2 separate regions of the Homo sapiens genome follow, and region 1 is linked to region 2. Evidence: fine-mapped expression QTL. A gene starts in region 2. The other region holds a variant in brackets. All regions are shown on one strand. Distances are between the middles of the regions. Region 1 overlaps LINC01170 (long intergenic non-protein coding RNA 1170). Region 2 holds the start of LINC01170 (long intergenic non-protein coding RNA 1170).

Region 1 (2,922 bases), 130 kb before region 2:
TCTGGCCCACGGCTCTCTGACTGACTCCTTCCCAGATCTTCTCGGCTTAGCAGCTGAAGACTGATGCTGCCCGATCACCTCGGAAGCCTACAAGACCATCACAGATGCTCTAGGTAACTCTCACAGTGGAAAGTAAGTCCACCCCCTTCTTAATCAATACAGAGGCTACCCACTCCACATTACCTTCTTTTCAAGGGCCTGTTTCCCTTGCCTCCATAATTGTTGTAGGTATTGATGTCCAGGCTTCTAAACCTCTTAAAACTCCCCAACTCTGGTGCCAACTTAGAAAACATTCTTTTATGCACTCTTTTTTAGTTATCCCCACCTGCCCAGTTCCCTTATTAGGCCAAGACATTTTAACTAAATTATCTGCTTCCCTGACTGTTCCTGGACTATAGCCACACCTCATTGCTGCCCTTTTCCCCAGTTCAAAGCCTCCTTCACATCCTCCTCTCGTATCCCCCCAACTTAACCCACAAGTATAAGATACCTCTACTCCCTCCTTGGCGACCGATCATGCACCCCTTACAATCTCATTAAAACCTAATCACCCTCACCCCTCAATGCCAATATCCCATCCCACAGCACGCTTTAAAAAGATGAAAGCCTATTATCACTCACCTGCTACAGCATGGCCTTTTAAAGCCTATAAACTCCCCTTACAATTCCCCCACTTCACCTGTCCTAAAACCAGACAAAGCTTACAGGTTAGTTCAAGATCTGTGCCTTATCAACCAAATTGTTTTGCCTATCCACCCCATGGTGCCAAACCCATATACTCTCCTATCCTCAATATCTCCCTCCACAATCCATTATTCTGTTCTGGATCTCAAACATGCTTTCGTTACTATTCTTTTTCACCCTTCATCCCAGCCTCTCTTCGTTTTCACTTGGACTGACCCTGACAGCCATCAGGCTCAGCAAATTACCTAGGCTGTACTGCCACAAAGCTTCACAGACAGCCCCCATTACTTCCATCAAGCCCAAATTTCTTCCTCATCTGTTACCTATCTCGACATAATTCTCATAAAATCACATGTGCTCTCCCTGCTGATCGTGTCCGGCTAATCTCCCAAACCCCAATCCCTTCTACAAAACAACAACTCCTTTCCTTCCTAGGCATGGTTAGTGCGGTCAGAATTCTTACACAAGAGCTGGGACTGCACCCTGTAGCCTATCTGTCCAAACAA[C/T]TTGACCTTATTGTTTTAGCCTAGCCCTCATGTCTGCGTGCAGTGGCCGCCACCGCCCTAATACTTTTAGAGGCCCTCAAAATCACAAACTATGCTCAACTCACTCTCTACAGCTCTCATAATTTCCAAAATCTATTTTCTTCCTCACACCTGATGCATATACTTTCTGCTCCCCGGCTCCTTCAGCTGTACTCACTCTTTGTTAAGTCTCCCACAATTAAGATTGTTCCTGTCCCGGACTTCAATCCGGCCTCCCACATTATTCCGGATACCACATCTGACCCCCATGACTGTATCTCTCTGATCCACCTGACGTTCACCCCATTTCCCCATATTTCCTTCTTTCCTGTTCCTCACCCTGATCACACTTAGTTTATTGATGGCAGTTCCACAAGGCCTAATCGCCACACACCAGCAAAGGCAGGATATGCTATAGTACAAGCCACTAGCCTGCCTCTCAAAACCTCTCATTGTGGTAATCTGTCCTCAAAGAAATAACTTCTCAGTGTTCCATCTGCTATTCTACTACTTCTCAGGGATTCTTCAGGCCCCCTCCCTTCCCTACACATCAAACTCGAAGATTTGCCCCCACCCAGGACTGGCAAATTAGCTTTACTCAACATGCCCCGAGTCAGATAACTAAAATACCTCTTAGTCTAGGTAGACACTTTCAGTGGATAGGTAGAGGCCTTTCCTACAGGGTCTGAGAAGGCCACTGCAGGCATTTCTTCCCTTCTGTCAGACATAATTCCTCACTTTAGCCTTCCCACCTTTGTACAGTCTGATAACAGACCAGCCTTTATTAGTCAAATCAGCCAAGCAGTTTTTCAGGCTCTTAGTGTTCAGTGAAACCTTTATATCCCTTATGGTCCTCAGTCTTCAGGAAAAGTAGAATGGACTAAAGGTCTTTTAAAAACACACCTCACCAAGCTCAGCCACCAACTTAAAAAGGACTGGACAATACTTTTACCACTTTCCCTTCTCAGAACTCAGGCCTGTCCTCAGAATGCTACAGGGTACAGCCCATTTAAGGTCCTGCATAGATGCTCCTTTTTATTAGGCCCCAGTCTCATCCCAGACACCAGACCAACTTAGACTGTGCCTCAAAAAACTTGTCATCCCTACTATTTTCTGTCTAGTCATACTCCTATTCACTGTTCTCAACTACTCATACATGCCCTGCTTTTGTTTACACTGTTTCTCCAAGCCATCACAGCTGATATCTCCTGGTGCTATCCCCAAACTGCCACTCTTAACTCTTAAAGTAAATAAATAATCTTTGCCGGCAAGGCTATGCTGACCCTCTTTAAGCACTCTCTAATTAGATGTCCTAAGTCCTCCCAATTCTTAGTCCTTTAATACCTGTATTTCTCCTTCTCTTATTCCGTTTAGTTTTTCAATCCATACAAAACCGTATCCAGGCCATAACCAGTAACTCTACATGACAAATGTTTCTTCTAACAACCCCACAATATCACCCCTTACCACAAAATCTTCCTTCAGCTTAATCTCTCCCACTCTAGGTTCCCACGCCGCCCCAATCCCGCTCGAAGCAGCCCTGAGAAACATCTCCCATTATCTCTCCATACCACCCCCCAAAATTTTCACCGTCCCAACATTTTACCACTATTTCGTTTTATTTTTCTTATTGATATAAGAAGACAGGAATGTCAGGCCTCTGAGCCCAAGCTAAGCCATCATATCCCCTGTGACCTTCATGTACACATCCAGA
Region 2 (2,922 bases):
AGCTTCTGGGGATGGCTGAGGATGGCTGGCTACACTGGAGGCAGGAGGCTGATGGTTCAGTGATGTCTTTGATCCCTACATCTATATTACTGCATTGTTCCACTCACTGGAATAAGAACTTTGATTCCTATTTAAACCAGGGCTTTAGAGGATATTTAAAAGAAATAATGGGAATTCCCAACATGGAAACATTACTTTTTACTGAAAGCACAGTTCACAGACAGGGGGATAAAAGGAAGTTAGATCTGATTCCTGAGTGTCCTACCTATTTACATTTTGGAATCCAGTAATGTAAGTACATTTATGCTTGTGTTTAAAATATGAGCATAGAAACAACACCTAGAAAACACATGTATTTAAATCTAAGTTGAAGATAAGATGGAATTTATTGGAGGGCAACAGCAGTGACCAAAAAAAAAAAAGCAAGAGACCAATTCAACACATTAGACCTGGTCAAATAACTACCTCACGCGCAGCTACAATTACCTGAACGCCAACAACAAAATGCTGTGACGATTCAGTCTTCATCATAATTACTCATCTTCTATAGACGATACAGTCTTAAAGCATAGGAAAGAATGTATGTACAAAGAAGCACGGAAAATGACACGGTGTAGAAGATGATGACTACTCCAGTGAATGCCATAGGTGGAGCCAATTTTCTAACTGGAGTAAAATGAACTAAATTCAGAATCAAATTGAAATGTAGAGGAATATTTATTTTTCTCACCTTAATGCTTTCCTTTAAGCAGGTTTAGTTTTCATTCATTTCACTGATCTAAGGTTAATAAATTCATTATTTCAGCACCCTATGAAGAAGAAACACATCTTTTTTTTTAATTATTCTTCCTCAATAAAAGCATATCTGGAATCCTATTTTCTGAGTGAGCTGGCACACGGGGTGGGGGAGGGGAAAACTGGGAGTGTGTTGGGGAAAGCGAGGGCAGGAGGGATGACAAATCTGACCCTACCCGACAGTGCTGCCTGTCCTGTAGCATCCCAACCCTTACAGTGGTCACCCATGTGTAGTTAATCAGATTAAAAGCCTCTGAGAAACCCCTTTGAATCTCTGTCAAACAAAGACATGGAATAAACAAGAAAAAGCAGGAAGGTTATAATGCTGCACGTGGGTTAGTAATAGAAGCAAATGCAAACGCCCAGGTACCTCAGAGACTTACCCGTACCTGTCAGGGGTCTGAAAGATTTCCTGTGGCCCTGGCAGTCTGGATTTAAGGCAGGCTTAGGGGAATTAGTAAACAAAACACAGCTGAGGGTCTTTTGCCATAAACTGAACAACCAAGGAAATGAAAGTAAGGCCACGGCAAAGTTGTCTCAGCGGTGTCACTGGCTGCCATGGGGCAGCCCTGCGGTGGAAGGGCCTGACCGGCCCGGGCCAGGGTGACATCTCGGGATGTGATCTGAGCCGTCCTTGTGTGCAGATCCATGTGTTTGGAGAACAGGGTCTGTCTGTTATGTGAACACAGAGGGCATTGAGCCCAAAGCCTCATATACATTAAAAATATAATGAGAGAGATTTTTATCTTCCATGAATATTTAATTCTTCTGAAAGCCAACCATCTGCATATCACAATGCCCCGATGCATGTGTGTGATTTTCTCTGTTGTCTTTCAAAATAAAGCAGACCATTTCACTCTTCCTGTGATGCCTTGAAAGTTGCTTAAATGTGCATTGATCACTTTGATCTAATGAGTGTGTGTATTTTAAAACAAAGTCAGCACTGTTGCTCTAATCTATTTGTGTGAAGGAAACAGAACAATGGGGGGAAACCAGGTCGGGTTTCATCGTTTTCCTGGTGGCCTGTATCACAATTCACTGCCGTTTTGAATGCTGTTTAATTTTTGCTGATGTCTTTTTATCTTAGGCTTCATGTGAATTTAAAAAGAGTTTCATTGATATGCAACCTACTGTGTATTATGATATCCTGCCTGCCCTGTTGCACTGTGGAAGCCTGCAGCTGCCTGAAGCCTAATTATGCATGCATGCATGCCAAGCCCAGATGCTCGGCCAAGAGTGCCTCAACCGACTACAGTTTCTCACTTGTTTTTGTTTGAATTATAATTGGGCAGATCTATATTTCTCAACCCATCTTGTAGCTTCAGCATGCTCCTCTTTGCCTCTGTTGCTACCTCTGCTTGAGTCAGCTTCTTCATGAAGGAGTCCCTTGCCAATCTGAAGTGCCTCTGAGATCTGAGAAGGGTCATTCATGGGTTTGACAAATCCTTTTACCTACACCGCATTTTAAAAGGTACAAAAATGACCCTAGCCCCAATCAGATTTCCTCCAGATGGTTGGTAGCTTAAAAAAAAAAAAAAAAGAATAGTTAACTAGAAGCTGGCATCTGGGTAGAAACAAAGAAGGCTTAGAGCCAGGCATCTACAATGGAGAGGAATATCAGAACTAAAGCTTTACACCTGCTGAAGGAAGGTAATGGAGACTAGCAAAAACAGATTTGTTAAGCATGTGCATTCACTATTCAGAGAGCCTTTTGTGAACTGTTTTCCAGGCTACCTACGGGACCTCAGTCTTCAAGAATAACAAAGCCTCATCTGAGAGTGTGAAACTGGGTATGGCATCGCACTAAATGTGGTGTTACTCTGAGTCACCCTTCATCTGGAGATGTACACATAGAGTAACCCTCTCATATAGGATGGCAGCTGCTAGTTATAGTACTTATTTCTTTTTTTTACAACTTTAAAAAATTTCTTGAGATGTGATTTCACTATGCTGCCCAGGCTGGCCTCAAACTCCTGGCCTCGGGAGCTCCCAAGTAACTGGAACTACAGGCACACACCACCATGCCAGGCCATACGGTATTTATTTCTGAGGTACTATCAGAGACACTGTATTGTTTTTTAAATGGAGCATCAAATTAAGCACACAGATTAATTTCATTGAAAATCG

The links. PIP is the estimated chance that this variant, and not a neighbour inherited with it, causes the effect.
Region 1: its variant is fine-mapped to the expression of LINC01170 in nasal epithelium (TOPMed, PIP above 0.99).

What each region holds. Positions count from the first base shown.
Region 1 is chr5:124,306,205-124,309,126 of GRCh38, forward strand. All of the region lies in intron 4 of LINC01170 (long intergenic non-protein coding RNA 1170), which reads right to left. It overlaps LOC107986448 (a long non-coding RNA gene), which reads right to left. Exons shown (of 4, transcript XR_001742871.2): 4 at 47-87. Among named protein-coding and RNA genes, the nearest start is that of LINC01170, 130 kb to the right of the region's middle. RefSeq lists an enhancer at 2,253-2,922. The variant C/T (reference allele first, on the strand shown) is at 1,191.
Region 2 is chr5:124,437,211-124,440,132 of GRCh38, forward strand. LINC01170 (long intergenic non-protein coding RNA 1170) reads right to left here and starts at 1,310. Exons shown (of 6, transcript NR_125774.1): 1 at 1,185-1,310; 2 at 487-666.